4 linked regions of the Homo sapiens genome follow. The protein of the gene in region 1 interacts with the protein of each later gene in a biochemical or structural test. Each region holds a gene or a part of one and is shown in the gene's direction. Other genes may lie near its edges.

Region 1 (8,162 bases):
AAGTTTTCTAAACCTACCAACTTGGGGGAGGCAGGGCTGCTGGCACTGTTAAGCCCTCACTTAGCCTGCTGTTAACACCAGACGCACCCCAAAAGACGATCTCTCAAACCCAAGGGAAGTGTTGTGGAGTCACGCGAACAGGACGTGCAGTGGACTGCTAGCCATAAGCCTTGCGGAGTGACTGAGAAAGAAGCCTGTTATCAGCAGGGGCTGAGCTGGTTCATGTCTTCTGTTGCCCCATACACATGTGGCTCTCTAGTGGAGGAGGTGTTAGCCACAGTGATTTGCACAATCACTCACTGACAGAAAGCTGGGCCCCAGGATCCAACCATTTTCACACCTGCAGTCCCCACAGAACTTCCTTCCTGGCTCCTCTGTGAGGTGCTCACAGTGGAGCAATTGTCTCTGTTTCTCAAGAGTCCGTCCCTCTCCCTCCGTGAGGCTCCAGGACACACTCCCAGTGTCTGTACAAGGTCAGGTTAACTAGACCTTGGTCAGCCCGCTGCCTTTCCTCTACAGCAGCGGCGTGGGGTAGTCATAACAGACCTGGATGGCCTGTGAGGCCTGCCCTTCTGTGAAGAGCACTCTCTTGCCGTTTACAGAACCTAGAATATTGAGCTGAGCAACTTCTGTTGCTTTTCTTCCTTCACAGTTCCTTTCACAGTCATTTTCCCTCAGCCAGGTGGTGGCTTGTGAGCATCTCATCTCTGTCGCTTCAGGTCAGGCGGCAGTGCTGCCTGCTTAGTCTGCATTAGACACTAACAGCAAACGCGGCAAGCAGGACCTAAACACAGCCTCAGAGGGGCCCATGTAGTAGGGGAGAAAGACACACACACACACAACTGTGCACATTTTTAGTATAAAAGAGCTTCTGGGGTTGACGTGATAATTTGTTTTTCATCATTTAATCAGCATTGAGCACTTCCTTTCGCCAGTTAGGAAAGGAACAAAGATGAATAAAACCCAGGTTTTGCTTTCCAGCAGCCTCATAGCAGGAAATGTAAACAACAAGGAGTATACAGAGTCCCAGAGATGGACACAGGCATGGTGGGTCCCAGAGAGTAAGGCAGACATTAAAGCCTCACAGAGTGTGGCCGACTCGCGGCAGTTGTGCTGCAGCTGAAACCTGACAGTTGGGTTCTTTGCTGGTTGGGGAGGGGCACAGCTGTGTGGACCCTGGAAGGCGGGCATGCCAGACAGCTGGGCAAGAGGGGGGCTGCAGAGAAAGAGGCCAGCCCAGGCTGTGGCCCTTGCTTCCCCAGGAGGCCAGCTCTCCCTCACAGGTAGCTGCCTGACCTGAAGCAGTGGCTCAGGTGACTCTGGTGGCAGTAAGGATGCAGGAGGACCTCTGAGAGCAGGGACTTGGGGGAAAACTGGTCAGGCCACTGAAGAGACAGGCAGCACCGCAGGCACAAGGATGGCAAGACAGAGGCAGGGTTGCTCCTGAGGCCACAGGGCGCAGTTGCTGGCAGAACGCCTCCTGAAGCCAGCTTTGCAAGGCGGGGGACCAGTATCCCTCTCAGGTCCACCACCACTCTGAGAGTCCCGGCGTGGCAAGGACAGTCACCTCTGTGCGTTGTTCATTTGCTCCAGACACAGAAGACACACAGATGCTCCCTATGTGCTTATAGCATGATTTTTTTTCCCAACATTCTTTTAGTGACAGTTTTCAACTATTCTGAAAAGTTGAAGGAATTTAAAGTAGACACCCATATTCCCACCACCTAGATTATACAGTTAACATTAACATCTTACTTGTTTTCTCATAGATCTGTCCATCTGTTCCTCTATCCACCCATCAACCCATCGCATTTTATCCATTCATTGCAAAGGACGTTGCCAACGTCTAGACTGACTTACAATTTAGTCATCTAGAATATCACATGAATCCAGGGGAAGCTGGGGCTGGGTTGGCTGATTAAACTATGGGATAGGTTCTTTCATAAACATTTCATTTTGGTGATCACAACAGAATTTTGGGAAGTCAGCATGCATCCATGTTTATAATTGAGGAAACTGAAGACAGGAGCCTTTGAGCACTTCGCTCAAAATTGTACATCAAGTGGCAAAACTAGGCAGAGAATCCAGGTATTTTGGACCCAGAATGTCATTTTCTTGAAATGTTTGCCAGCATGAAACAGTGGCAGGCTGCACACTGCCTGTGATTAGCCTTGCTCCTTGGGAAAGTTCTCAGGACTCATTCACAATACTAAGGAGCATTGTCTCTGAGTTCCCAGCCCACACACTGGAGATCAGGAGCTCTGAATTGGAGAGCTCAGGAGGTAAAGGTGTAATAAAACATGGGAACACTGGGAGGGCACGGTTGACCGTTTGGCTGCAGCAAGAAAGGCTTAGAAACATACACCCCAGGACCACAGAGCACAGCTGTGGGGCCCCTTTGGTAGAGGAAGCAATGAAGTGATATTTGTAGTGGTGGCCGAAAGGTCTTAAAAAAGGGTCAAATTATATTCATTGTATTTTGCTTAAGGGGGTCAGTTTTAGAAATGTTTCCATGGGCAAGTTTAAAAGCTGATCATGCCTACTACCTGTGACAAGCCTCATTCCTACCCAGCCCATGTCCTCAGTCTCCTACCCTGTGAGGCGGGTGAAGGTAGAGGTCAGTGCTCAACTTCCTTCTTCATCTGCCTGATTGTGAATTTTCTCAGGTGGATTGATCACTAGGGGCATGAACCGCATTTCCCTTTGGTTTATTGAAGATGAAAGCATTTTAGGGCAGCTTTAATTTCCTGCCAACCCGTAGGTTTGGCTGCAGTTCACCTCTACATAAAAGAGACCACTTCTCCCTCTTAGCCCATCTCCAAGTCCACAGTTTGGCTATAGTTAGCCCATTCTTCTTGCCCCACCTCCTGAGTGGCAGATGGAAACCACAGCTCTGAAAGTGCTCTGTGAAATAGTAAGTGATACTCTGCTAGATTTTCATGCACTAGTGTTGGATATCTTACGGTAAATAAAGGACATCTTAGGAACACTGCAGTCAGCGTAGGCTGGGGGAGTGGCGTCTTTCCTATGAGTGTTGTGGAAACCACCTCAGAACTGTCTGAGAGGAGGTGCCTGTGGAGTGAGGGCTGACCCTGGCCCCTTCAGAACTGCCATGTGTTATCCTTGCCCAAATGTGTCCAAAGAAATGGCCATTTTGCAGGAGTCTTTTTTCCCTTTTCTGTTTTCATAATGCTATTGCTGCTGCTGCTGTTTTAATGTGGTTCACTGTTGTCACTTTTGTGTTTTGTGATGCTGATGATGATGCTGTTTTCACATGGCTCACTCTTAACTCAGTGGTCTGTTTGTGTTTCTATAGGACAAGGGCTCAGAGGACTGGACGTGCTCAGACATCGGTGTTCTTCTTCCCAGTTCTTGACCCCTGGTCCTGTCTCCAGCCCGTCTTGGCTTATCCACTTTGACTCCTTTGAGCCGTTTGGAGGGGCGGTTTCTGGTAGTTGTGGCTTTTATGCTTTCAAAGAATTTCTTCAGTCCAGAGAATTCCTCCTGGCAGCCCTGTGTGTGTCACCCATTGGTGACCTGCGGCAGTATGTACTTCAGTGCACCTACTGCTTACTGTTGCTTTAGTCACTAATTGCTTTCTGGTTTGAAAGATGCAGTGGTTCCTCCCTCTCCTGAATCCTTTTCTACATGATGCCCTGCTGACCATGCAGCCGCACCAGAGAGAGATTCTTCCCCAATTGGCTCTAGTCACTGGCATCTCACTTTATGATAGGGAAGGCTACTACCTAGGGCACTTTAAGTCAGTGACAGCCCCTTATTTGCACTTCACCTTTTGACCATAACTGTTTCCCCAGAGCAGGAGCTTGTGGAAATACCTTGGCTGATGTTGCAGCCTGCAGCAAGTGCTTCCGTCTCCGGAATCCTTGGGGAGCACTTGTCCACGTCTTTTCTCATATCATGGTAGTCACTAACATATATAAGGTATGTGCTATTGGCCCAGCTTTTAGAAAATGCAGTCATTTTTCTAAATAAAAAGGAAGTACTGCACCCAGCAGTGTCACTCTGTAGTTACTGTGGTCACTTGTACCATATAGAGGTGTAACACTTGTCAAGAAGCGTTATGTGCAGTACTTAATGTTTGTAAGACTTACAAAAAAAGATTTAAAGTGGCAGCTTCACTCGACATTTGGTGAGAGAAGTACAAAGGTTGCAGTGCTGAGCTGTGGGCGGTTTCTGGGGATGTCCCAGGGTGGAACTCCACATGCTGGTGCATATACGCCCTTGAGCTACTTCAAATGTGGGTGTTTCAGTAACCACGTTCCATGCCTGAGGATTTAGCAGAGAGGAACACTGCGTCTTTAAATGAGAAAGTATACAATTCTTTTTCCTTCTACAGCATGTCAGCATCTCAAGTTCATTTTTCAACCTACAGTATAACAATTTGTAATAAAGCCTCCAGGAGCTCATGACGTGAAGCACTGTTCTGTCCTCAAGTACTCAAATATTTCTGATACTGCTGAGTCAGACTGTCAGAAAAAGCTAGCACTAACTCGTGTTTGGAGCTCTATCCATATTTTACTGATCTCTTTAAGTATTTGTTCCTGCCACTGTGTACTGTGGAGTTGACTCGGTGTTCTGTCCCAGTGCGGTGCCTCCTCTTGACTTCCCCACTGCTCTCTGTGGTGAGAAATTTGCCTTGTTCAATAATTACTGTACCCTCGCATGACTGTTACAGCTTTCTGTGCAGAGATGACTGTCCAAGTGCCACATGCCTACGATTGAAATGAAAACTCTATTGTTACCTCTGAGTTGTGTTCCACGGAAAATGCTATCCAGCAGATCATTTAGGAAAAATAATTCTATTTTTAGCTTTTCATTTCTCAGCTGTCCTTTTTTCTTGTTTGATTTTTGACAGCAATGGAGAATGGGTTATATAAAGACTGCCTGCTAATATGAACAGAAATGCATTTGTAATTCATGAAAATAAATGTACATCTTCTATCTTCACATTCATGTTAAGATTCAGTGTTGCTTTCCTCTGGATCAGCGTGTCTGAATGGACAGTCAGGTTCAGGTTGTGCTGAACACAGAAATGCTCACAGGCCTCACTTTGCCGCCCAGGCACTGGCCCAGCACTTGGATTTACATAAGATGAGTTAGAAAGGTACTTCTGTAGGGTCCTTTTTACCTCTGCTCGGCAGAGAATCGATGCTGTCATGTTCCTTTATTCACAATCTTAGGTCTCAAATATTCTGTCAAACCCTAACAAAGAAGCCCCGACATCTCAGGTTGGATTCCCTGGTTCTCTCTAAAGAGGGCCTGCCCTTGTGCCCCAGAGGTGCTGCTGGGCACAGCCAAGAGTTGGGAAGGGCCGCCCCACAGTACGCAGTCCTCACCACCCAGCCCAGGGTGCTCACGCTCACCACTCCTGTGGCTGAGGAAGGATAGCTGGCTCATCCTCGGAAAACAGACCCACATCTCTATTCTTGCCCTGAAATACGCGCTTTTCACTTGCGTGCTCAGAGCTGCCGTCTGAAGGTCCACACAGCATTGACGGGACACAGAAATGTGACTGTTACCGGATAACACTGATTAGTCAGTTTTCATTTATAAAAAAGCATTGACAGTTTTATTACTCTTGTTTCTTTTTAAATGGAAAGTTACTATTATAAGGTTAATTTGGAGTCCTCTTCTAAATAGAAAACCATATCCTTGGCTACTAACATCTGGAGACTGTGAGCTCCTTCCCATTCCCCTTCCTGGTACTGTGGAGTCAGATTGGCATGAAACCACTAACTTCATTCTAGAATCATTGTAGCCATAAGTTGTGTGCTTTTTATTAATCATGCCAAACATAATGTAACTGGGCAGAGAATGGTCCTAACCAAGGTACCTATGAAAAGCGCTAGCTATCATGTGTAGTAGATGCATCATTTTGGCTCTTCTTACATTTGTAAAAATGTACAGATTAGGTCATCTTAATTCATATTAGTGACACGGAACAGCACCTCCACTATTTGTATGTTCAAATAAGCTTTCAGACTAATAGCTTTTTTGGTGTCTAAAATGTAAGCAAAAAATTCCTGCTGAAACATTCCAGTCCTTTCATTTAGTATAAAAGAAATACTGAACAAGCCAGTGGGATGGAATTGAAAGAACTAATCATGAGGACTCTGTCCTGACACAGGTCCTCAAAGCTAGCAGAGATACGCAGACATTGTGGCATCTGGGTAGAAGAATACTGTATTGTGTGTGCAGTGCACAGTGTGTGGTGTGTGCACACTCATTCCTTCTGCTCTTGGGCACAGGCAGTGGGTGTAGAGGTAACCAGTAGCTTTGAGAAGCTACATGTAGCTCACCAGTGGTTTTCTCTAAGGAATCACAAAAGTAAACTACCCAACCACATGCCACGTAATATTTCAGCCATTCAGAGGAAACTGTTTTCTCTTTATTTGCTTATATGTTAATATGGTTTTTAAATTGGTAACTTTTATATAGTATGGTAACAGTATGTTAATACACACATACATACGCACACATGCTTTGGGTCCTTCCATAATACTTTTATATTTGTAAATCAATGTTTTGGAGCAATCCCAAGTTTAAGGGAAATATTTTTGTAAATGTAATGGTTTTGAAAATCTGAGCAATCCTTTTGCTTATACATTTTTAAAGCATTTGTGCTTTAAAATTGTTATGCTGGTGTTTGAAACATGATACTCCTGTGGTGCAGATGAGAAGCTATAACAGTGAATATGTGGTTTCTCTTACGTCATCCACCTTGACATGATGGGTCAGAAACAAATGGAAATCCAGAGCAAGTCCTCCAGGGTTGCACCAGGTTTACCTAAAGCTTGTTGCCTTTTCTTGTGCTGTTTATGCGTGTAGAGCACTCAAGAAAGTTCTGAAACTGCTTTGTATCTGCTTTGTACTGTTGGTGCCTTCTTGGTATTGTACCCCAAAATTCTGCATAGATTATTTAGTATAATGGTAAGTTAAAAAATGTTAAAGGAAGATTTTATTAAGAATCTGAATGTTTATTCATTATATTGTTACAATTTAACATTAACATTTATTTGTGGTATTTGTGATTTGGTTAATCTGTATAAAAATTGTAAGTAGAAAGGTTTATATTTCATCTTAATTCTTTTGATGTTGTAAACGTACTTTTTAAAAGATGGATTATTTGAATGTTTATGGCACCTGACTTGTAAAAAAAAAAAACTACAAAAAAATCCTTAGAATCATTAAATTGTGTCCCTGTATTACCAAAATAACACAGCACCGTGCATGTATAGTTTAATTGCAGTTTCATCTGTGAAAACGTGAAATTGTCTAGTCCTTCGTTATGTTCCCCAGATGTCTTCCAGATTTGCTCTGCATGTGGTAACTTGTGTTAGGGCTGTGAGCTGTTCCTCGAGTTGAATGGGGATGTCAGTGCTCCTAGGGTTCTCCAGGTGGTTCTTCAGACCTTCACCTGTGGGGGGGGGGGTAGGCGGTGCCCACGCCCATCTCCTCATCCTCCTGAACTTCTGCAACCCCACTGCTGGGCAGACATCCTGGGCAACCCCTTTTTTCAGAGCAAGAAGTCATAAAGATAGGATTTCTTGGACATTTGGTTCTTATCAATATTGGGCATTATGTAATGACTTATTTACAAAACAAAGATACTGGAAAATGTTTTGGATGTGGTGTTATGGAAAGAGCACAGGCCTTGGACCCATCCAGCTGGGTTCAGAACTACCCCCTGCTTATAACTGCGGCTGGCTGTGGGCCAGTCATTCTGCGTCTCTGCTTTCTTCCTCTGCTTCAGACTGTCAGCTGTAAAGTGGAAGCAATATTACTTGCCTTGTATATGGTAAAGATTATAAAAATACATTTCAACTGTTCAGCATAGTACTTCAAAGCAAGTACTCAGTAAATAGCAAGTCTTTTTAAATGCTGCTTTATTTCACTAAATTTTGTTGTGAGGTGTCACTAAAATGCCTGCAAACAAACGTAACTGCTAATCTGAGAGGAAACCCTCTTACTAATCAGAGAAGAAACCCTCCTGTCAGAAACCTTCAGGGAAGTGAGCTGATCACACCTAAACTGGGAGTTTGCAATGGGGTATTTGAAGCACTGTGGGAGTATTCCACTGGCCCTCTCCCTGAGAGACTTAACAGTCTTCCCTGTTGTCCAGATTCTGTATAAGGCAATCA
Region 2 (8,162 bases), on another chromosome or scaffold:
CATGAGCCACCGTGCCCTGCCTATTTCTGTAACTTTTGATAAGTCATTTGATCTGTTGTTGTTGTTTTCTCATAGTAACAAAGTAGAAGTAATTTTCTGCCTGCTTTACTAGATAAATTAAGGGGAAAAAAATAAGATACGTAAAAATGTTATTTGTTATTAAAAAGAAAGTTGTTATTTTAAAGGTTCTATAAAGACATAGAGTGCTTATTAGAAATTGAGCTAACACATTCAGGAAAGGATAGGAAGAGTTTGCTGAAGTTCTTTCTTTAGGGATTCTTGTGTACCGATAGCACAGTTAAAGAGCAAACTCATACCATTTTTATATTTCTGTGTATTTGACTAAGCTTACTGGCTTCAATGATTAACTGTTATCCCAAATATGGATTATCTTTCAGCCAACTCAGGGAATCACAGCTACTGAGTAGTGTGTGTCAGATCTCTTGGGTGTGCTGGAGTGAGTAAAAGGGGAATGAATTACTGTGTTCATGCTGAGACTTAATTGAACGGGTATTCAGTTGATCTAGGTGATGGGCACTTTGTTACTTTTATTGTAACAAATTTGTATATTTAGTTGCTTTAAAACTTTATTTCATGCTTTCATTAGGCCTTGTGAAAAAGGGTAAAGAACAAAACACACAGCGAAGCTTTTTTCTCAGAATGAAGTGTACCCTAACTAGCCGAGGAAGAACTATGAACATAAAGTCTGCAACATGGAAGGTAAGTGAAAATTATTTGTGATTGATTATACACTTTATTTATACATAGACATTGTAGTATTAAGATAACTTTAGAATTGTGAGGGAAGGTTTACAGTTCCATGGTGTTTGGTTATGTAACATTTATATCTTCAACTCATTTGCATGTGATCTCCAAAATGCAGAACCGTGTAGTAATTTGCCAATTTGAGGCACAAACTTAAATTACGTGAATTGTGGCACTGGTGTTCCAGGCTTAATCAGTTGGCTTTGCCAGCCACACAATATTTGAATCCTGATAGGGCTTAATTTTCTATTAATCATGGTTTTATATCTTTGTTCAATGTTGAAACATAGTCATCAGTGCAAGAAATAACTATCAAACAGCCATGATGATGAGATGAATGAAAAAGCAGCCTAGACTTTATACGAGGGGAATTTTTTAAAGAGTAATGTATAGGCCCTGGGCAGGAAGTAGGTCATAGGTGGTATCATAGGAAAAATGTTCATTGATTTTCAAAAACGTGATTAATCCACTAGTGACAGTAAATTTTATCAAAGCTTACTGGCCATGTCAGACTCAACTACTTATCTCTGCTTTTTTTTTCCCTAGCATTGTAAATATTTTTTTTAACTGCTTTGTTCTTCATACACAGGTATTGCACTGCACAGGCCACATTCACGTATATGATACCAACAGTAACCAACCTCAGTGTGGGTATAAGAAACCACCTATGACCTGCTTGGTGCTGATTTGTGAACCCATTCCTCACCCATCAAATATTGAAATTCCTTTAGATAGCAAGACTTTCCTCAGTCGACACAGCCTGGATATGAAATTTTCTTATTGTGATGAAAGGTAAATTAGATCTAAAATGTGAATTTGAAATTTTTAATTAGTCTACAGCATTACTGAATATTCACCATAGCAAAGATTCAGCGCTGGCCATGCATGGTGGCTCACACCTGTAATCCCAGCACTTTGGAAGGCTGAGGCAAGCGGGGGGTGGATCATCTGAGGTCAGGAGATTGAGACCAGCCTGGCCAATGTGGTGAAACCCCATCTCTACTAAAAAATACAAAAATTAGTGGGACGTGGTGGCAGGCACTACTCAGGAGGCTGAGGCAGGAGAATCGCTTGAACCTGGGAGGTGGATGTTGTGGTGAGCTGAGCTCACACCACCACACTGCAAGCCTGGATGACAGAGCAAGACTCCCATTTCAAAAAAAAAAAAAAAAATTACTCAATGTTAAACTATACTTTCCACTAAATTGAACAGAATGATACATCCTATAATATTAGATTAACTTTGTAAATTAATTCAGCCACATTTATTGAACATTTACTCTGTACTATGAACACTTACTTTACTAGGTGCTATCCAGAAGTTAAGATGAGTCTTTTTTTCCCCAATAGGGGCTCTACTTACTTAGAGAATTTCAAAGATATGCAGTGTGTATTTTGAGCAAAGATAGATTACCTTAGGTTGGGGACTAGAAAGCCAAGTGTTTGTACATCTCTTCATCCTACATATTTTCCCTGAGAAGCTTCAACCTTGCCCATGGTTTCTATTACTATTTCCCACATTTCTTCCTGTAACTAATTCTATTTAATTGCCAACTTAATATTTCTATCTGGATATTCTTCTGTATTGTAAACTAAGTATTACTGTAACAACTGTACTACTACTGCCCCCAAACAACATCATCATCAAAAACTGCCTTTCTTCCTATAATGCTTATTGTGGTTTAATACACCACCATACACACATGACTCCAGCAAAACTTTGGAAGTCATCTGTAACTTTTCTTTTACATTCATTGGCTACATACAGTTGGTGTCTAAATCTTACAGATTTACTATCTACATATATCTCTTGATCCATTTCCTCCTTTCCATCCTTGCACTCCTGCCATTGAATTCATTAGCTCATTATTACTCTTGACTTGAGTTGTTGGCATAGCTGCCTTTTTGCCAACAGATTTGTACCCTTATAATCTTTCATCTAAGTTGCCAGAAAGTGGGTGTCCTAATGTGAAAATCAGATCATGTCATTCTGTTGTTGAAAATGCCTCAAATGCTTCCCTCCATCTTTGCACACAAAAATATTTTGTTTATAAAAATACTAGATGAGGGAAGTAAATTTTTCATTTATCAAAAGAAGATGTGTATTTTAGAAGACTGAAAAAAAATAGACCTACACAATACAATCTAAACTTAGCATGGCAAACAAAGATATTTATGCTCTGGCCCTAACTCTGTCTTTGGAATCAGATGTTAGATTCACTCATGGCTTGCAGCTCTGATACTTACAATGTGGCCTTGGCCTTGGTACTTAACTGTTGTAAAATTCACATTCCTTATCTATAAAATAAGAATCATGGCTGGGTGGGGTGGCTCATGCCTATAATCCTAGCACTGTGGGAGGCCGAGGTGGGTGGATCACCTGAGGTCAGGAGTTTGAAACCAGCCTGGCCAACATGGTAAAACCCCATCTCTACTAAAAATACAAAAATTAGCTGGGTATGGGGGCACATGTCCGTAATCCCAGCTACTTGGGAGGCTGAGGTAGGAGAATTGCTTGAATCCAGGAGGCGGAGGTTGCAGTGAACCAAGCTTGCACCACTGCACTCCGGCCTGGGAGACGGAGTGAGACTCCATCTCAAAAAACAAAAACAAAACAAAAAAAAGACCTCAGAAGGATGTTGTCAGGATTAAAGGAGTCCATTGAGTGCCTAGTACAGATAGTGAATGCTTCACTACTGGTGTCAACTTTAAGAAAATGAATATAGAAAAGCTAAGAATTATTTTAAGGTGTTTACTACTAGCATGTAAATGTATGATGGGACAGAGATTTCCATCCTATTTTGAGGAATTATTTTTTATTTTTTTGAAAACTTAAGGTAACAAAGTAGAGAGGAGGCCAGGGAGAAAGGAAGGTAGTGGAGCAAAAATGAGAAAGGGAGTGACATTCCCCTCTAGTTATAGCAGAAAATTAGCAAAATGATCATGACAGGAGGTAACAGTAAAGACAGCCAGCTCATATATCAACCAAGACAGTTTTGAGTTTGACCAGCAGACTGTTATTTTCTGGTTTAGAGCTCTTTCCAGGAACTTCTTGCATCTATAACCCCTGAGAACCAAGCTATGGAAAAAATTTTGCTCAATTTTAAGAAAATCTAACATATCAAGCTCCTCAACTCCAAAATATTCCACAAATAGCTGCTATTTACTATACTGAGTAATAATCATTTAAAATTATTCAACACTTTATTTGAGCATCTACTATGTTCATGGCACTAAAGTAGAAATGAAGATGAACAGTTCCTGCCTCAAAATAAATGAGTAGTATACTGCTTTAGATCATGGGTTTCCTAGTCCATTAAAAACACTTTTTGGTCATATTTTCTGGACACCCCGACCCTTTTGGTATAGAATATAACCTATGTAATTCTCTAAAGTTAAATTAACCTCACTTTTCTTGCTCTAATATGTGTAAAACTGACCTTCTAGGAAAGCATATACAGTTTATATTTTTGACTTCTTGGTATCTTTTAGTGATAGACATACCTCAGATTGAGAAGCACTGATTGACATTAGATTAAATCAGAGCTTCCTATGACAATATAAACAATACCTTCATTAATCTGATCCCCCTACCTACTTCTTCAGCATCATCTCATATCTGTCTCCACTAATCATATTATAGAATCTTTGTTACCTGCACCATGTTAAGCATTTTTAAAAATCTTTTGTTTATACCATACCTTTTTCCTGAAAGCGGTTTTGCCTTTCCTTTGTCTCTAGTCATAAGTCTCCTATAAGAGGCTGTTCCTCATTCTACCATTCCTTTGCATGGATAGGATTCCATGGAATAGATTCTCATCACTGCATTTATCACATTATTTCCTAAGTAGTACAGTACATCTACTGGAAGATTAGCCACGTATTGAGTTTTGTCTTTGCATTTTCATGCCTAGAATAATGCCGGGCACACATAGGCATATTAAGATTTGAATAGTGAAAAAGTTTTTAATTCCATGGGGATTTTATTTAAACAGAAAAATATAAGACCAATTAGAATTATTTTTAAAGCATAATTTCAAGAAATATGACTGATTTTGTTTAAAAACATGTTTTCCTTTATAATGCTGCCACCTGGTGTTGCTGTGTTTAGAGATGTCCCTTTGTAAAGAATTGAGGGTTTGAGTTGAGTTTGGTTTGGTTTTTGGCAAATCAGCTTTTCCTTTGTATATTTATTTTGTAATAAACTATGGAAGATCTTGCCTTTAAGTGTGAGAACACAAGCAATGTTACTTTTATACCTTTATAGAATATCTTGCCTATGTCCTTCCTGTAGTTAGGTAGGGTTTTTTTTTTGACACACAGCATGTTATATAAGGTTTGCTTGCACCTCGGTAGGAAAGTCCTCTGAAATCTAAAGGCTGAGAATCTAAAAGCTTAACTCATGTTTTGCTCCTAGAAAGACTTGAGAAGAGAGTATTTCTGTTCAGCATGGTACTAAGAAGACAGCTTTCTCTTCCTCATGTCATGGTTGCCATTTCATACTGCTTACAGAGAATAAGATCTAGTCTCTGTCTTAAATAAAGGTCTACTCTCTGCCAGCGAGCTAGATAGGGTAATTGGATTGTTTTCCAATCTATTTTCATTTGAAATATTGTTTTATCTGAAATTACTCCCATAATTTCATGTAATGCCAAAAACTAAACTAAGTACAAGAGCATCTTCAAAAACCAACATAATTCCTTTAGTTCCCATTTAGTGTAGATGCTCTTTGGTTGATGATATTAGAATTGTGTAATGGCTATTGATCTCTCAAAGTGAGGTGTTGCCTAGGGGCTTAAAAGTTACTACATAAAGAATTTGGCTTTATGAAGAAATGTTACAGATTTTATCTATATTTTAAAATAAGTGTAAGTGACTACCTTTATAACTTTTACCATGTAGTTTAGTAGTATTTCTTATCTGTTTATTAATACCCTGCCTTGTTACCAAAAGTATGTATAATGAGATGTAATAAGAATAGGTAACAAGTAGGCTGGGCACGTTGGCTCATGCCTGTAATCCCAGTACTTTGGGAGGCCAAGGCGGGTGAATTACCTGAGTTCAGGAGTTCAAGACGAGCCTGACCAACATGGAGAAACCCCATCCCTACTAAAAATACAAAATTAGCTGGGCATGGTGGCACATGCCTGTAATCCCAGCTACTTGGGAGGCTGAGGCAGGGGAATCGCTTGAACCTAGGAGGTGGAGGTTGCGGTGAGCCAAGATCACACCTCATTGTGCTCTCCAGCCTGAGCAACACGAGGGAAACTCTTGTCTCAAAAAAAAAGACCAGGTAACAAGTTTGGGTGAACAGGATTAAAGAGTTAAATAACAGGAGGAATCTAGAGGACTTAAAGAAATGTGTGGTGTTGGATTTAATAACTGTAGTTGCCAAAGGTGAGGTGTAAATTTATTCTAAGCAAAGGAGGATGCTCATTTTTGAAAATTCACTTGTCCATAAGATTAATGCCTATCAGTTAACTTGGGAGGAGAAAAATTTTTCTTTATCAGTGTCTCCCTTTTTTTTCTTAAATCTTGTATTTTTTACTAACAGAATTACCGAATTGATGGGATATGAGCCAGAAGAACTTTTAGGCCGCTCAATTTATGAATATTATCATGCTTTGGACTCTGATCATCTGACCAAAACTCATCATGATAGTAAGTACAATGGAAGAACTCAGAGATATTCTAATTACTTAACTGTTGCAACCTCTGTACAGTTTGGCTACCCATCTAATTCTCTGGTTAAAAGTTCTAGACTAAATGTGTTAACAGGCCTATTCAGTAGAGATCTTGACCATTTTGTGTTTTGTATGTGTTGCAACAAATATCAGTAAAAATAGAATCATTTAATCATAGAAAAAACTTCCTGGCATTTTAAATACAAAGACTTTTGAAAATCCAAATATTATAGAGTATTGAATAGCATAATTTTCAGAATTCACATAAATACTCAGAACAGTGGTTGGTATGTAAAAGGCACTCAGAAAGTATTTGTACAATCAATGAATGTGAAGGTGGTGAACATCACCTTTGGTAATAAGTACCATTTTAAAAAATGCTTATAAGTGCATAGTTAGGTATTTATATTTATGGGTTCATGAAATATTTTGATATAGGCATGCAGTGCATAAGGATAAATGGAGTACCTATCACCTCAAGCATTATCTTGTGTGACAAACAATCCAGTTATACTCTTTTGGTTATTTTTATTTTATTTTATTTTATTTTTTTCTTTTGAGACAGGATCTCACTCTCGCCCAGGCTGGAGTGCAGTGGAGCAATCTCAGCTCACTGCAACCCCCGCCTACCGGGTTCAAGAGATTCTCCTGCCTCATCCTCCCAAGTAGCTGGGATTATAAGCATGTACCACCATGCCTGGCTAATTTTTGTATTTTTAGTATAGACAGGGTTTTGCCATGTTGGCCAGGCTGGTCTCGAACTCCTGACCTCAGGTTATCCACCTGCCTTGGCACCCGGCCTCTTTTAGTTTCTTTAAAATGTACAATTAAATTATTTTTTACTATAGTCACCCAAAACAAGTACCTTTGACATAAGATTTGATTCTGAATTTTACTCAAATGAATGTTAAGATCCCCAAGATAAGTTAAACTTTGGACTATCTCACCTGTTTAATCTGTACCTATGCATGACTTCCCACTGTGCTTGAGGATACCTGAATATCACTGAGTTTGTGTGACTGATCAGCCTTGAACTCAAGAGTAAATCCAAGTCTGCAGTCAGGACACCCCAATCCTCAAAATAATACCATCATTAGCATTTATTTAGTACTTTCTCCCAAATCAGTATTTAATTTAAATTGCCAAAAGACTTACAATGTGGTATCAATTTATATTTAAATATGCTACATATAGCTTTTTAAAGCATCTTTGGTTCTCTGGAAACCATAGTCAGAATTTAAGGAAGTTATTGTGGCACCATTTTCTTGAAAAAGGCTATTGATTATTCTCTAATCTGACACCAACCTAAGTCATTAAAGGAATTTTAGTTACTGAAGATTGTATATTCATGAACTCTTCACTTAGCTCACTGGCAGCAAAGGAGTTTTATTTAGGGGGTTTGAAAAAGGAAATGGGTACATTTTCAGCTATTCTGGGACGCACTGTCAGAATGTAAGCAGTTACAACTGATTCCACTAAATAAACATTTGTTTTCCAAAACAATGATGAACATTCAGCATCTGTTCATTTAATTGAAAATTCAAAGTTAAAATATTTTCTCTGCATGATTCTTTTTCTTTTCCCCCCTAGTGTTTACTAAAGGACAAGTCACCACAGGACAGTACAGGATGCTTGCCAAAAGAGGTGGATATGTCTGGGTTGAAACTCAAGCAACTGTCATATATAACACCAAGAATTCTCAACCACAGTGCA
Region 3 (8,162 bases), on another chromosome or scaffold:
GGAGAGATTAACTTCTTTGAAAATATAGAAGCTTTTTGTCTTTTTAAAATAGTTGTTTTTTTGCAGATGTTAATACATTTCAGCAGTACAGTATGGCCTTTTTCAGGTTAAGGTGCTGAGCCCAAACCTCAAAGAATCACTGCAAAAAGATTGGATCCCCCCTCTTCACCCCATTTCGTAATTTAGTTAGTGAGAACCACAACTGGCTAAACCTTTGTGGGGGGCCGGGCACTGTGGCTCATGCCTATAATCCCAGCACTTTGGGAGGCCGAGGCAGGCAGATCACAAGGTCAGGAAATCGAGACCATCCTGGCTAACACGGCGAAACCCCGTCTCTACTAAAAATACAAAAAATTAGCCGGGCATGGTGGCAGGTGCCTGTAGTCCCAGCTACTCAGGAGGCTGAGGCAGGAGAATGGCGTGAACCTGGGAGGCGGGGCTTGCAGTGGGCCGAGATCCCGCCACTGCACTCCAGCCTGGGTGACACAGCGAGACTCCATCTTAAAAAAAAAACAAAAAAAAACAAAAACAAAAAAAAAACCACCTTTGGGGGGAAATTATCAAATAAAACAAACTCTTTTTAGAATTTTACAACTTTTATGTTAGGAAAAAACAAATACATTTGTGAAAAGCTTAAAATCCAGTAAATGACTTGAGGGACTTGGGGCAATCCTAGGGTGATGAGGAGCAGGTTAGTAACAGTGAAGGACTTAGCACCCCAGGGGGCCAGAGGCTGTAATATACCTTATGAGCAAGTCATTCTTATTTAGTCTTGCCCATTAAGAAGTCTACTTGGACTAAATGCTTTTAAAAATGCCCTTTTAATTTACTATTAAAAGAATATTCCTAGCAGAAGTAGTCTTGGATGCTAAATTCTATTTTAAGAATAACTAAAATTAGAATTCTGTTCTTTTTATAACACCTGTTACACACACACCCCTACCTAGTGTGTCGGAATCAGTTTGTATGGGCTCACCAAAGCCTACTGTTCAATTTTCAGGAGTTTTGTAAGCCATTTGATGTCAGACAAGTGGCCTGAAGTTTGTTATGGTGGTGGTATTTACACCATGAAAATTGGCATGTTATGGTGGTAGTATTTACACCATGAAAACTGCTACAAATAGAAATCTTTTTCTTCTTCTCTTGGAGAGCCACTTGTTGAACACTTACCAGCTCACCTGTGCTTGAAAGTATTTCTTCAAATAAAATGAAAGCTGGTTAGCTTTGAAAATTTTTTGTATAAAAGTTTACACGGGAAAAAAATAAACTAATTTTTTTTTCCACCTGTGTTTTCAGGGATACGAAAAGACCGAAGAGGAGGGAGAATGTTGAAACACAAGCGCCAGAGAGATGATGGGGAGGGCAGGGGTGAAGTGGGGTCTGCTGGAGACATGAGAGCTGCCAACCTTTGGCCAAGCCCGCTCATGATCAAACGCTCTAAGAAGAACAGCCTGGCCTTGTCCCTGACGGCCGACCAGATGGTCAGTGCCTTGTTGGATGCTGAGCCCCCGATACTCTATTCCGAGTATGATCCTACCAGACCCTTCAGTGAAGCTTCGATGATGGGCTTACTGACCAACCTGGCAGACAGGGAGCTGGTTCACATGATCAACTGGGCGAAGAGGGTGCCAGGTAAGAATGCGAAGCGCAGCTTTTAAGAGTCAATAGCTTTTCAAGAACTTGTTGTGATGTCATGGGAGAAATAGTGGGGGAAAAAGAAGCAATAACATGTTATGTAATTGGTTTCAAGGTTACAGGAGATGTGTTCATTTTCAGTATCAATACACTGTAATTTTCCAGGAGATTAGGAAATAATATTTTTAAATCAGAATCTAGAAGACTGAAATTCTTAAATTGACATAATTTATTTTTAACCCATCTCATTTACCAAAAAGATTTAGGGTGGACACTACATGGTAAAACTATTTAATAGTGTATGTTCACAGTAGCAGAAACTTTTAACACTAAATGAACTACAAAAGTTTGTAATATTAATGACCTTTGTTGAAAACATCTCAATTATTAATCAAACGATTTTATCTTAAAAAGATTTTTAAGATTCGGTGTGGTGGCTCGTGCCTGTAATCCTAGCACTTTTTGGGGCTGAGGTGGGAGGATTGCTTGAGCCCAGGAGCTTGAGGCCATCCGGGGCAACGTGGCGAAACCCTGTCTCTACAACAAATTTTTAAAAATTAGCTGGATGCAGTGGCACACACCTGTGGTCCCAGTTATGGGGGAGGCCGAGGTGAGAGGATGGCTTGAGTCCAGGAGGTCAAAGCTACAGTGAACCATGTTTGTGTGGAGTGCCACTGCACTCCAGCCCAGGTGACAGAGCAAGACCGTGTCATAAAAAATAAACCACACAAAAAAAGAGAAAGATCTTTATGGATTAAAAAGATAATAATAAGTGTATTTACTGAATGCCAATTATTTATCCAACCTGGTGTATGCTTAGTGTTTTAGGAGAAAGAGAAAGGCAATGGAAAAATAAATTAAGGTATCATCCCTGAAAGAAACTTTTAGAAAGACACAGTGGCTGAAGTGATACCTTGTTCCTTCAGTTGATTCTCTCAGAACTGGTGTTCTGGTAAAATTGGACTGTTACTCCTGTTATTCAGGGAGAAGAACTCAAGTTTGTATGGCAACAAGACTAGAAAATGACTTTCTCCCTGCCCCAGTGTATTCGTTCAGGAGCTAATGTAGATAAACCGAGGCAAGAAGAAGCTAAATTTTTTTTCTGGGCTTATAGGTTAAATGAGTGATAGATTTAGTTGGAGGTTTTCTCATTTGGTTTCTTTTAATAGATGAAATTAATTGTTTCCTATGAAGCATGAAATGTTTTATATGAAACTAAAAAAATGTGGAGTTTGTACTTGCATTTCAAGGGTCACTGCTCTGTTATAGGCCAAGTGAACTTATGTCTGGCCTTAGAGAATCTTACATGTATTTGCATCTATCAGTATATAAACATGTGGGCCGTAGAATAAGGAGCCAGCAGTACCAGAACCCAGCCTTGTTAGAGGCCACCATTTTGGTGGTTGAGTGGTTATTAGTTTACATGGAAGCATGGAGAATAATAGGCAAATGTAGGTTTTCAGTGTCAGTCGAACTGGCAAACAAAAATTTCTGGTCATCTTCAGAATGAAAAGTTTTCTTGAGTACCTACATATTTTAGCATTTTCATATGAAGCAGATACATTATAAGTTAATTGTTGGAATCTAATTGTAATATGGCTGTAAGTTTTTTCTTTATATTTGTTATTGCCTTGTTCTTATATTATAGGGAAAGAGAAACAAACAAACAAGCAAAGAAACTAATGGTCATATATTTGAGAGCCAACTCTTGGTTGCTGTTCAGTTTTATTTTCCTGTAAACATATATTTTCCCTTATGAAATCTTGGGAATATTAGCTCTGGAGCACTGCTGAACTCAAGTACAGACATTTTCATGTGTATCAGTAGATTCCCATCATGACATTTTTATAATAATGTTGAAGAGCATTTTAAACAACTGGAATTAAGCTCAAATACATTACCAGTGGTTGAAGAATTCACATCAATAATCTTCTGAATTTAGGAATAAAATGGAGAAGTCAAGGAAAGGAAAATATTATACACAGGCTAGCAATAGTTAAAATACAATTATTAAAGCCAGAGCTAGACAAAATTATGGCAATGAGATGTGTAACAAAACCACTCTGTAACTTCATCATGTTCGTTTAAAAGACCTGAATGATTCCAAAATCCTTAGACCAATAAACTATGTCTTCTTACTTGATAATTAAAAAAAAGAATTATAAAGGCAAAAATGAAATTATATGTATGTGTGTTTGTGTGTGTTCCATGGGAATACAGCTGTTGTAAATCAAAGGCCTACTTGCCTGACCAAGCAGAATAAAAATAGTCATTGATTTTAAAGAGACTAAAAGTGAGGGAAGAAAAAAGTCTTCTGCAAAAGCTCTACAGATGGTTGTCAAACTTTTCAGAAAAATAGACAAAGCAACATTTTGAAAAGGATTTATATCTTTTATATATTCAAATACCATCTGTTATTTAAAAAACATAGCCCACACTGAATATCTGATATAGACAATATAACGTTTATGAGATAATAGTTTGAGAATGACAATAATAATAGTAAGTTTTAAAAGAGGAAATAAGCCGGGCACAGTGGCTCATGCCTGTAATCCCAGCACTTTGGGAGGCCGAGGCGGGTGGATCACCTGAGGTCAGGAGTTCAAGACCAGCCTGGCCAACATGACAAAACCCTGTCTCTACAAAACAGTACAAAAATTAGCCAGGCTTGGTGGCACACATCCATAGTCCCAGGTACTTGGGATGTTGAGGTGGGAGAATTGCTTGAACCTGGGAGGCAGAGACTGCAGTGAGCCGAGACCCCACAACTGCACTCCGGCCTGGGCAACAATGAGACTCTGTCTCTAAATAAATAAATAAAGAAGGAAATAGTAAATGTCATTAGTAAGAAGAATAGCAAAATTTCAGTTCTAGAAATACCCAGAATTAGCTATATGATACAAAAACCCTCATGAAACATTTGGATAATCCTCAGAATACCTATCAATATAACAAAAACTATGAATTGACTTCATTTTGAATGATGAATTTTTAACAAAAATAGTCAATACTTTGGGCTTAGTAGCTCTAGAAGTGCTTCTTTCTTCTTTCTTTTAATTAACAGAATATTGTCAGAATTTTCAAATGTTGATGATTATAAGTTGAATTTTCCTTTTCATTAACCCCTGGGGCTTATTTTTTGACTTGATATGTTTCTCTACTCAGAATTAAGATGTGAAGAGCTTTGGGATAGAATGCATCATACAAGTGTGAGAGTCAAGTTCCAATCCATAAAGTACTTCTGGTAGACCTGGATAAAGATGACCTTAAGAAATGATTTTTTTTCTCTTTGCAGTTTAAAAACAACAGTAGCAACAAGAATGATAAAACCTATGAAGCCAGCTCTGACAAAAGATGTTTTTTTTATAACACATACTATGTATCTACTTTTTGATATTTATCTATCGAGAAGACTTTTCTCCTTATTGTTTGCTCTGAAATTTGTTTATATTTAATAGGAATTTTATAGCCTTATCCCTGGGTAGAAATTCAGTTTTTTTAAAAGTAGATAATTAAATCTTAATTTACTATTATTTTACACATGGTGAAACTAGTCAATAAATGTAATATCATTGAGCTGAAGGTTAAAAAGGAAAAAATATGACTGCAAGAGTGGTTGTATTTTTGATTTCAGCATCACACTCAATTGCATCATTGAGTGGTTCATTCTTAGTTTCAGTGTTAATGAAATACATCTGAGTTTTTTTCCCCAGAAGCTTGAATTGTGTCACCAAAGTGTCATTTTGATTTATTGAAAGTTAAGCCCTTTCCAAAATTCACCATAATTTTACATGTCTCGAAAGCAATTTTATACTTCAAGTCTGTGCTATAGTTCTATATATTTTATGAAGATTTGGATAGATATCTAGCCCTGAGTTTTTTATTGCCTGTTAAATACTTATAACCCAAAGTGTAGCAGCCTCATGAACTGCTGCTGGGCACAGATCTGGGAGAGTGCACTCAGAGTGTTGGCCCAGGAAGAGGAAAAGAGGAAAAGGGGCAGTTCAGTGGCAGCTTGGCTTCCTGTGAAACATGTCACCTTAACCACTTCCTCATTCTTTTAGTGGCAAACTAGACGACCTTCTCCTTCCCCTTTCCTGCCGAGTCCCCCTCTAATCAACACTCTAGAAGGCCCCTCTTCCTCCTCAGTCCTGACTCCCTGTCATTTACTTCAGGTTGCCTCCTTGCTCAGTTTTGGCCCCAGGGGTAGGCAATCTCCTCTTTCTGGACATGTCTCCCACCAGCCCCAAGTTCAGATTTCTTGGAAGTTTCTGTGTTGTCTCGAGGATGCATGGTTGTGTGAGTTATTCCAGGGCTCAAGGCCTCTTCTGTGTCTGTATTCCCCAGGAATCCAGGAATTCACTTCTCTGCCTCTCATCCTCATCCTCATCATTAAAATGAGCAGATTTGAGCTCAGGAAGTGCTTGAATAAATGAATAAATGAACAAATGAAAGGTGATTTTTGAAAGTCTTAATTTTAAGAAGTCTCTGAGCCCTGTTACAGCTCAATTTTCCCATAAACTAGAACTGCTCTCTAAGGCTGTGACATTTCTCCTTTTTCCTCTCCTCAAAATCTACCTGCTGTTCTGATATCTCCCTGACAGCCACCATAGTGAGATTCTATTTCCATTTCCAATCTCTCTTTTGTAAGGGACAGAGAAACAGCTAGAGAAATATGGAGCCATGCGCTCTGAGGACTTTAGCAGGCTTCAACTCTATCTGCAAGTGAGTTTCACTTAGCGAATGAAATTGGAAACTTAAAGTGGGTAGGGATGAGGGTTCCCGGAGAAGGTGTAATACCTCAGTCTGGGAATTGGGAGCATCTACAAGGAACACACTCAATTCTGGGAGGTTCCTGTAGATTTCAGAGATTTAGCAGGGCTTCCCAGCACTCTGCTTCCCAACCTGTCATTGGACCAGTAAACCCTGCTCTCAAACTGTTGTGGTGTCCAGCATGCTTTGGCAAGGTAATGAAAGATAACATGACATGGACATATGGGTGACATCCTGGAGAGATGACAGAAGCCTCTGTTTAAGGACAAGATTTGCCATTTAGATTTTGCACCCACTGTATAATAAGAGCCTTAGGATTGGGCTGGAATCGCCCTAGCAGGCATGATGGCAGCCCCTCTGGACTGGCAATATGCAGCTTTTTTGCAAGTGTTCCATGTCCAAGTCACCCCACCCAGCTTTCTACTGCTCCCGTGGAAGCTCTGGTGAAACGCAAGGAAAGCAGCTGCTGTTGACTGGATTTTTCTTTCACATGAAACTTTGAAGCCTCATAGATGCTTATTGGCCTGGATGCTATTAAACCTTTAAAAATCCCTTTCTCATCTTGAGAGTATTTGAGAAACATGTCTGGGGCATTTTGCCCACCCTCCTCCAGGTTCTGTGTCAGTGAGTGATATGGTTTGCCTGTGTCCCCACCCAAATTTCATCTTGAATTCCCATCTGTTGTAGGAGAGACCCATGGCAGGTAGTTGAATCATGGGAGCAGGTCTTTCCCATGTTCCTGTGATAGTGAGTAAGTCTCAAGAGATCTGATGGTGTTAAAAAGGGGAGTTTTTCTGCACAAGCTCTTCTTCTCTTGTCTGCCACCATGTGAGATGTGCCTTCCACCTTCTGCCATGATTGTGAGGCCTCCCCAGCCACAATGGAACTGTAAGTCCATTAAGCCTCTTTCTTTTGTAAATTGCCTACTCTGGGATGTGTCTTTATGAGCAGTGTGAAAACAGACTAATACAGTGAGTCTGGGTCAGTGTGTGTTTATGTTGAACGTAGTGGACTTGTGGTGTCCCCAGGGCACCCTGTGGGGAATGTTGGCCTGTGGCTTTGCTACTTCCAGGGGGATTTGGCATGGAGAATGTGTGTTTTAAGTAATAGATAGATTATGATTGAAGTGTGTTATGGGCTGAGTTGTCTCTCCTCAAAAAGACATGTTAAAGTCCTAACCCCCAGTATCTCAGAATCTGACCTTCTTTGGAAATAGTGCCTTTATATAGGTAATCAACTTCAAGTGAAGTCATTAGCACAAGCCCTAATCCAATAAGGACTGGCATTCTAATGAAAGGGGAAATTTAGACATAGAAACAGACATGCACAGAAGAAGATGATATGAAGAGACACAGGAAGAGGACGGTCATGTGACTGGAGTGCTGGGTCTGCAAGCTGAGAAATGCCAAGGTTTACTGGCTAACATCGGAAACTAGAAGGGGCAAGAGTGGACTCTCCCCCTCAGAGAGAGTATGGCCTTGATTTCAGACTTCTAGCCTCCAGAACTGTGAGGCGTACATTTCTGTTGTTTTTGAAGCCACCTAGTTTTTGATACTTTGTATGGGAGCCCTAGGAAATTAATACAAAGTGTATTAAAAATAGAATTTTCTTCTATTGTATTTTTGAGGCAAAAGAAATAAGGAGCTATTGATTTAAGGAGGAAGGTTTGGCTCATCTAGTATAGACTTGGCTAATCATTTACTCTTGTATATTTCTCTTCTGCCTGCCCAAGTAGTTCACTGAACAGGCTTAGA
Region 4 (7,985 bases), on another chromosome or scaffold:
GAGCCATGTGGACATCTGTGGGAAGAGCTGTCCAGGGAGTGCTATGGTTTGAATGCATTCCCCAAAGTTTATATATTGTAAACTTAATCCCCAGCGCAACAGTGTTGAGAGGTGAGAACTTCAAGAGGTGATTATGTCATGAGGACTGTTAAATTAAGTTTAGGCTAAAGCTGCCTCCATATATATATATATACGTATATATACATATGTACATATGTATATACATATATATACACACACATATATATATATATATATATATTTTTTTTTTTTTTTTTTTGAGACGGAGTTTTGCTCTTGTTGCCCAGGCTGGAGTACAATGGCATGATATTGGCTCACCGCAACCTCCGCTTGCCGGGTTCAACTGATTCTCCTGCCTCAGTCTCCCGAGTAGCTGGGATTACAGGCGTGAGCTACCACGCCCGGCCCATACATATTTTAAGTTAGGCCTAAAGGTTTCTCTGTACACAGCAAACTGTAACCTAACTGGATATGCAAACAGACTGTAGCCAACTCTTGTACCAATCACAGAGTTTTGGTCAATCACAGGCAGCCAACTGTTCAAACTGTGTTAAAATAAAGCAAATATTTAGCTCTAACCAATCCAGTTTTTTCTGTACCTCACTCCATTTTCTGTCACTTTTCTTTCTCTGCCCATAAACATCATCTGACCCTGTGGCAGCCCCAGAGTTGCTCTGAAACTATTCTGGTTCTGGGGGCTGCTCAGTTCTCAAATTGCTCTTTGCTCAATTAAACTCTGTTAAATTTAATTTGCCTAAAGTTTTTCTTTTAACAGGGATCTGTCCTCATGAATGGATTAATGGCATTATGGGAGTGCGGTTTGGTATCTCAGGAGGGGATTGCTGATATAAGCATGAGTTTGGCCCTTTTCTACCCTTCCTCTCATGTTCTCTCTCTTGCTATGTGATGCCTTCTGCTATGTTGTGATGAAGGAAGAAGGCCCTCACCAGATGCAGCCCCTTGATTTTGGATTTCTCAGCCCCCAGAACCATGAGCTAAATTAACTTTTATTGTGTATAAACTGCCCAGCTGGTGGTTGTATTGGTCCATTTTCATACTGCTATGAAGAAATACCCAAGACTGGGTAATTTATAAAGAAAACGTGGTTTAGGGCTGGGTACGGTGGCTCACGCCTGTAATCCCAGCACTTTGAGAGGCCAAGGCAGGTGGATCACCTGAGCTCAGGAGTTTGAGACCAGCCTGGCTAACACCACAAAACCCCGTCTCTACTAAAAAATACAAAAAAAGATTAGCCAGGCGTGGTGGTGCATGCCTGTAGTCCTAGCTACTTGGGAGGCCAAGGCAGGAGAATTGCTTGAACCCTGGAGGCAGAGGTTGCAGTGAGCTGAGGTTGCATCACTGCATTCCAGCCTGGGTGACAGAGTGAGATTCTGTCTCAAAAAAAAAAGGTTTAATGGACTCACAGTTTTACACGGCTGGGGAAGCCTCACAATCATGGCAGAAGGTGAAGGAGGAGCAAAGGCACATCTTACGTGGCAGCAGGCAAGAGGGCGTGTGCAGGGAAACTGCCCTTTATAAAACCGTCAGATTCTCATGAGACTTATTCACAATCACGAGAACAGCATGGGAAGAACCCACCCCCATGATTCGATTACCTCCCACCAGGTCCCTTCTATGACACATGGAGGTTATGGGAGCTACAATTCAAGATGAGATTTGGGTGGGGATACATAGCCAAACTCTATCAGTGGTATTCTATTACAGCAACACAAAATGAACTCAGAAAGGGAGGGAACAGCTAGCACATAGATACTGAGGTGAGAATGTGCCCAGATTGTTCCAGAAGAGTGAGGATGCCAGTGTGACTTGGGGAAGTGAGCAAGAGGAAGAGTAGAAGTGCAGGTCAGAGTGCTAAAGGAGGGGAAGGAAAGATTATGTAGAGTCTTGTGCTTATTATGGGAACTTTTATTCTGAGTGAAATGAGGACCCAAGGGAGGATTTTTTAAAAATTTAATAAAATGATATTAATATACAGTCCATATTTAGGTTTTTATAATGGTCTCATCAATGTCCTTTTAAAAAGAATATCCAAATTTTTATTATCATTTAAGGAAATAATTTGCACAATGGGCAAAATCAAATTTTATTGCATACATAATAATATTAATAGTTATCATTTAAGACTACTAGGACTGCACTAAGAAAGGCCATCTAGGCTGGGCGCGGTGGGTCATGCCTGTAATCCCAGAACTTTGAGAGGCTGAGACGGGTGGATCACTTGAGGCCAGGAGTTTGAGACCAGCCTGGCCAAAATGGTGAAACCCCGTCTCTACTTAGATGGGCGTGGTGGTGTGTATCTGTAGTCCCAGCTACTCGAGAGGTTGAGGCAAGAGAATTGCTTGAACCCGGGAGGCAGAGGTTGCAGTAAGCCGAGATCGTGCCATTGCACTCCAGCCTGGGCGACCGAGCGAGACTCCGTCTCAAAATTAAATAAATGCCATTTTTGATTTTTTTAAAAATTAACGACTTTAAAATGACAGTTTATAGCTCCTCCTCCCCATTCAGGATCCAATCAAGGTCATATACTGCATTTCATTGTCATGCTTTTTTTTTAATAGCTTGAGGTAAAATTCACATACCAAATGATTGACCCATTTAAAGTGTGCAATTTAATGGCTTTTGGTATATGCACAGAGTTGTGCAACCATCACCAGAAACTAGTTTTAGAACAATTTTGTCACCCCATAACCTTTAGCTGTCACTCCCCAGGTTCCTCATTTCCCCAACCCTATGCAAACCACCAATCTACTTTCTGTCTCCATAGCCTTGCCTACTCTGAGCATTTCACATATGTGGAAGAATACAATGTGTGGTCTGTCTTCTTTCCCTTCACGTTTTGAAAGGTTATCCATGTAGCATGCATCAGTATCAGTACTTCATTCCTTTTTATGGCTGAATAATGTTCTCTTGTATGGGATACTTTATACTATTTATCAAGGGAGGGTTTTCAACAGAGGAGTGGCCTGATCCGAGTGGCATTTAACAAGGTTCACTTTCCTGTTGTTCTAAGGAGCAGAGAATGATCAACTGCGTCAAACGCTGCTTTTAGGGAAAATAAGATGAGGCCCACGAATTGACCAGTAAGTGCTCAAATAGGTTAAGGGAAAAAGGAATTTAATTAGAAGACATATTCTGATATACATTGCTGGGAGTGATTTTTTTTTTTTTTTTTTTGCTTCATGTGAAATTTATTCCTCAAAAAAAAATCATTTTTTCTAAACGTAACTCAACATTATAGTAATTATGCAAGATTTTATGCAGCTTCAAGAGTTAGCCAAGAGAAAAGTTGACTCTTGCAAGAAGATATTTTCAATGTCTATGCAGATCAGGTAGGTAAGAGTTAAGTGCGGGGGAGTTGGCATCATCTAAAAGACTGTAGAAATTGGACCAAAAATGTGGAGTTCTAAAGCAGTATCTCCTTATGGCATGCCATTATTTGGAGCAACAAGGTTACCTACTCGAATCACTGGATCCTGAGTTGACACAAAACGCATCTGTTGACTCAGGGTTTGTATAACCACGTGCAGTATTTACTAGGCTATCCAATTCTGGGTACGTACAACTTCTGGGGCCTGCAAATTATTGGAGAGTGAGTGAGGGGCAACGAAAGATAGACATAAAAGGGCGCGTCTCGAAAGGTAACTGTCAACATGCACTCCACGTTTATAGAACGATTCAGTGGGCGCGGTGGAAGCGTTAATGAACATTTCAGAAAATAAACATATGGAACATCGAAATTCACTTGCAGATAATGGACTAAGTCCGCTCCACCGGGACTAAAAAGGCAGGGTTAGGAAAGCCTGAACGCCGCCACACTGTTTTTTCTCCAGGAAGAAACGGGGCGTGGGGCTGCCGGTAGAAGGGGGTGGCTCCGGCCGCTCCCCCGCGCCGTCCTCCGGCCCCGGCCGCGCTGCGCTCACGCCGGCCGGGCCGGGAATTTGGAGAGGATCCCTGGTCGCGCGGCAGCGGCGGCGGCGCGCGGGTGAGCGGGTGAGCGTGTGAGCGGGCGGGCGGGCAGGCGAGTGCGCCGGGTATTGGCAGCTGAGGAGTGGAGGCTGGGCAGCTCCGACTCCCTGACGCCAGCGCGACCAGATCAATCCAGGCTCCAGGAGAAAGCAGGCGGGCGGGCGGAGAAAGGAGAGGCCGAGCGGCTCAACCCGGGCCGAGGCTCGGGGAGCGGAGAGTGGCGCAGCGCCCGGCCGTCCGGACCCGGGCCGCGAGACCCCGCTCGCCCGGCCACTCGTGCTCCCACACGGACGGGCGCGCCGCCAACCCGGTAAAACGAAACAGACCCGAACCGAACTTTCCCTTCATGCCGCGTCCCAGCCCTCCCCTCGGCGCCCCGGGCTTTCCAGCGCCGCCGCCGCCGTCTCTGCACGCGTGGGGCCGCCGCGGTCGTGCTGGGCTGGGGGCGCGGGCAGCGGCGGGAAGGGGGCTCTTTCTGCGCGGGGCGGGCCGCGACCCCCCCCCCCCATGATGGCGCCTCCCGTCTGCTCGGAGGAGCGAACCTGCTACCACGTCTTCTCGCGCCCAGCCCGCCGGGCTCCCCTGGTGTCTTTGTTGGGTCTTCTGCTGTGGGAAGCCCAGTTCCCGGGCCCCCGAGCCTCGGCTCCCGGGCCTGACCGCGCTGGGATCTCCCCGGCCGCGCTCCCCTTCCGCGCGCTCCTCACATCTCTCCCGTGCTGCCGCCGGGCCGAGGCCCGTTCGCGTGGCCCGCGGACCCATTGTGTCCCCCGCGCCGGCGGGGCGACCCCTGCGGGAGCTGGAGGACGACCGCTGGCGCTGCTCTCCAAGGCGCCTGGTGGAGCGGGTCTCGCGGGCGGGGGACCCCGGCGCCCCGGGCCCCTCCACATCCCGCACGGGTTTTCTTCTCGGCCCCAGCAAGCCTCTTTGGGGTCGAGGTCAAGGAAAGTTCGCACCGAGATCCCCTCTAATTTATTCAAAGGTTTGGCGGCGGCGCGTAATTTTTTCCCCCTCTTCCGCCTACACCCGCTGCGTCTCCTGGTGTCTCGTTCCTTTCCCTTTACCGGAGTCGATTGCCTCACTGCATGTGTATTCGTGAGTTCGCGGTTGAACAACTGTTCCTTTACTCTGCTCCCTGTCTTTGTTAGTGTTTCTCGGGGTTGTTTCTGTAGGAAGGTGGGGGTGGTGGGCGTGAGAGACAGATGTGGGCTTGTTTTTCTAGTTGCTGAAACTGTATGAAGGCTTTAAAGGGAGAACGTTTTCTTGATGTGCTTTAGGAGGGGAGGAGGAACAAATGCCTGCCAGATCTCACAGCTACAGTAGCTGAGCTTTTGTTTATTTTGAAGAGCATGCAATTTTTAAATACACGGTGCAAGATAACCAGTAAAGGCGCGTTCCTTCTGAAAATTGAGGCCGGTCTCAGAACCATCTCCTGAGAAAGCATCCTTTTCGTGAGTGCTGAGACAACTGTCCTTTTTCTCTGCCCTCCCCCCTCTTTTCTTTCCATTGTATCTGAAGTTTCAAAGTACGTGGAATGATACAGAAGTTGCATGATTTCTGTTATTTCTTCCTGTTGCTGAAACTCTCAGCCGCTAAATCTCAGAATGCCTCTATTTCAGAACATCTCTGGGTCTAATTGCCTGTTGTGGATAACTTGCCCACACCTCAGTAACACAATGAGAAAACTGTTCCCTGCCCATGTTGATTTTTCAAATTGTTTGTAATTACTTTAAATTGTATTGAAGGTAGGTGGACCGTGTTAAAAAAGAATCGGAACAGAAGTGTTCACTGCCCCAGCATTTTCAATTGGTATAAATATTGTTGCATCAGTGTTATTCTGATGTAGGTGCCAGATCTAAATATGCTGTACTGATTAAAGTGTTTGTTCTGCCCTCTCCCACTCTCTTTCCCATTTGCAATTATTTGCTATTTCTGTGCAGGTGGTGTATCATTGGTGTAATACTGCAGTTCTTAGGAAGGTGTAGCTAGGGTCGTGAGAGATGATTTTTCTGGAGGTGGGTGATGCCAGAGCCTCTAGAGGATCCAGGCAGGATCGAGTTTCTTCTGAGGGTAGGGATTTGTCCTTGATTTAGTTTTGACCCCTACAACCATAGGTATGTAACCAAATACATTTTACCTCTTGCAGTATCCTTTGGTTTCGTATCCTTGAAGAGCTGATGACCTTTGTGTTTTAGAGAAATGACAATTTTTAGGCAATTAAAGACATTGGCCTCTTACACTTCTTGGAATTTTATGTTATTTTTACTAAGTTCATTAAGGCATTAAGAGGAAGTTGTCACATTTTCTCAACTACGTTTATTACATTTATTAGTTAAAAACTAAATTTCACTTTGTAATTTTGATTTCTAGCAATTCTGGGTTAAATATTAAATCTAATAACCTAGTAGATTGGAAAAAGAAGTAGCTTGGGTATAGTAATTAGACTAGCATGTTTAAGCTGCAGTAGCCTACATAATCAAGGCCAAGTGTGTGTGTATAAAAGATCTCATTTGTGTAGTCTTACAAGGCTAATGGAGGCATCACTGAGGCTTTATAAATAATGTAAGTTGGGTATAATGTAGAGTCTCCAGAGACGGCAGAGAAAGCATCATTACCAGCCTTTTCAACCTGCTTGAGATCTTAAATTGATTTACAGCACTGAACTGGTGCAAAATGATACATCAGGATGACATGGGGTCAGCCTGTAAAAGTCTATGATGTCAGCCTATTAGTTCAGTCATCATAATTAAACCATATTACAGGGGTAGCTAAGCAGGAGTCTGGCGTTATACTTCAGATATGGGTGGTACATGGGTTTTGTTTATAGTGGAAAGGCTGAGATGGCCAGGGATACCAGTGTGTGTGAAAGAGGGAAAAGGCTTACAGAACTATGAATTTCTGTAGAAAAATTTAAGATAAATGCAGAGATATTCAATCTGAATTGTATAAGTAGCTTTTCATTTGGTAGAGGAGAAACAGATGCTTTAGGGATGCTGATAAGGACCTTTGCAGCTCTGATATGTGTACTGAATGCTTCATGTGAGTTTGAATTTAACTTGGCCTTAGGGACCTTATAAAATATCAGTGGACCACATACTTAACTTTGATCCTTTTATTACCCCTGAATTTTCACTGTATTGATATCTACTGACATGTTATTTCTTTAACTAGTCAAACTTACCAGGCCTATACCAGAAACAAAGATATTTGAATTGAACATATAAACAGTTCAGGAAAAGAAGATCCTTATTTTGCTTAAGTTTCTGACAATCCTTATTTAGCTTATGGATTATCTAGGGCTCTGCTATCCTAGCCATAGTCACACGTAGCTTTTTTTGAAATTTTATTATTCTATTTTTTTGAGACAGGGTCTCTCTGTGTTACCCAGGCTGGAGTGCAGTGGCACGATCATGGCTCACTGCAGCCTCGACCTCCCAGGCCCAGGCAGTCCTCCCACTTCAGCCTCCCAAGTTGCTGGGACTACAGGCACTGCCACCATGTCTGCCTGACTAATTTGTTTTTGTATTTCTTGTAGAGACAGGGTTTCGTCATGTTGCCCAGGCTGGTCTTGAACTCCTGGGCTCAAGCTGTTCTCCCGCCTCGGCCTCCCAAAGTGTTGGGGTTACAGGTGTGAGCCACTGCACTCGGCTACTTATAGCTATTTAAGTTTAAATTAAAATTAAATAAAAATTCGTTTTCTCAGCAGTAGCCGCATTTCAAGTGCTTAGTAGCTGCTTGTGGTTAGTGGCTGCCATACTGGACAGCGTGTATATAGAATAGTTCCATCATCACAGGAGGTTCTGCTAGCCATTGCTGCCCCAGGACCTTTACCTCTTCTCACTTGTTAACTCTACTAATGATTTGTGGAGTCAAAGATGGAAAGACATATATAAACTAATTTTATCACTAACTAGCTGTTCTTTTTAAAATAAAACACAATTTGGAAGGGACAGTTGAAGCTGCTGGATAAAAGGAGTTTG

Evidence for each region.
Region 2: of the proteins of MAPK1 (region 1) and HIF1A, one has a biochemical effect on the other in vitro, tested with the Homo sapiens proteins (3 studies listed by BioGRID).
Region 3: of the proteins of MAPK1 (region 1) and ESR1, one has a biochemical effect on the other in vitro, tested with the Homo sapiens proteins (3 studies listed by BioGRID, with this or other methods).
Region 4: of the proteins of MAPK1 (region 1) and SMAD1, one has a biochemical effect on the other in vitro, tested with the Homo sapiens proteins (3 studies listed by BioGRID).

What each region holds. Positions count from the first base shown.
Region 1 is NC_000022.11:21,759,395-21,767,556, reverse strand, and holds the end of MAPK1 (mitogen-activated protein kinase 1), read left to right. Parts: intron 1-3,316; 3' UTR 3,317-7,900; downstream 7,901-8,162. UniProt on the Homo sapiens protein: Serine/threonine kinase which acts as an essential component of the MAP kinase signal transduction pathway. MAPK1/ERK2 and MAPK3/ERK1 are the 2 MAPKs which play an important role in the MAPK/ERK cascade.
Region 2 is NC_000014.9:61,726,099-61,734,260, forward strand, and holds part of HIF1A (hypoxia-inducible factor 1-alpha), read left to right. Parts: intron 1-607; coding exon 608-720; intron 721-1,354; coding exon 1,355-1,557; intron 1,558-6,319; coding exon 6,320-6,426; intron 6,427-8,039; coding exon 8,040-8,162.
Region 3 is NC_000006.12:151,942,877-151,951,038, forward strand, and holds part of ESR1 (estrogen receptor), read left to right. Parts: intron 1-1,296; coding exon 1,297-1,632; intron 1,633-8,162.
Region 4 is NC_000004.12:145,477,721-145,485,705, forward strand, and holds the start of SMAD1 (mothers against decapentaplegic homolog 1), read left to right. Parts: upstream 1-4,132; 5' UTR 4,133-4,318; intron 4,319-4,613; exon of another isoform or gene 4,614-5,456; intron 5,457-5,505; exon of another isoform or gene 5,506-7,044; intron 7,045-7,985. UniProt on the Homo sapiens protein: Transcriptional modulator that plays a role in various cellular processes, including embryonic development, cell differentiation, and tissue homeostasis.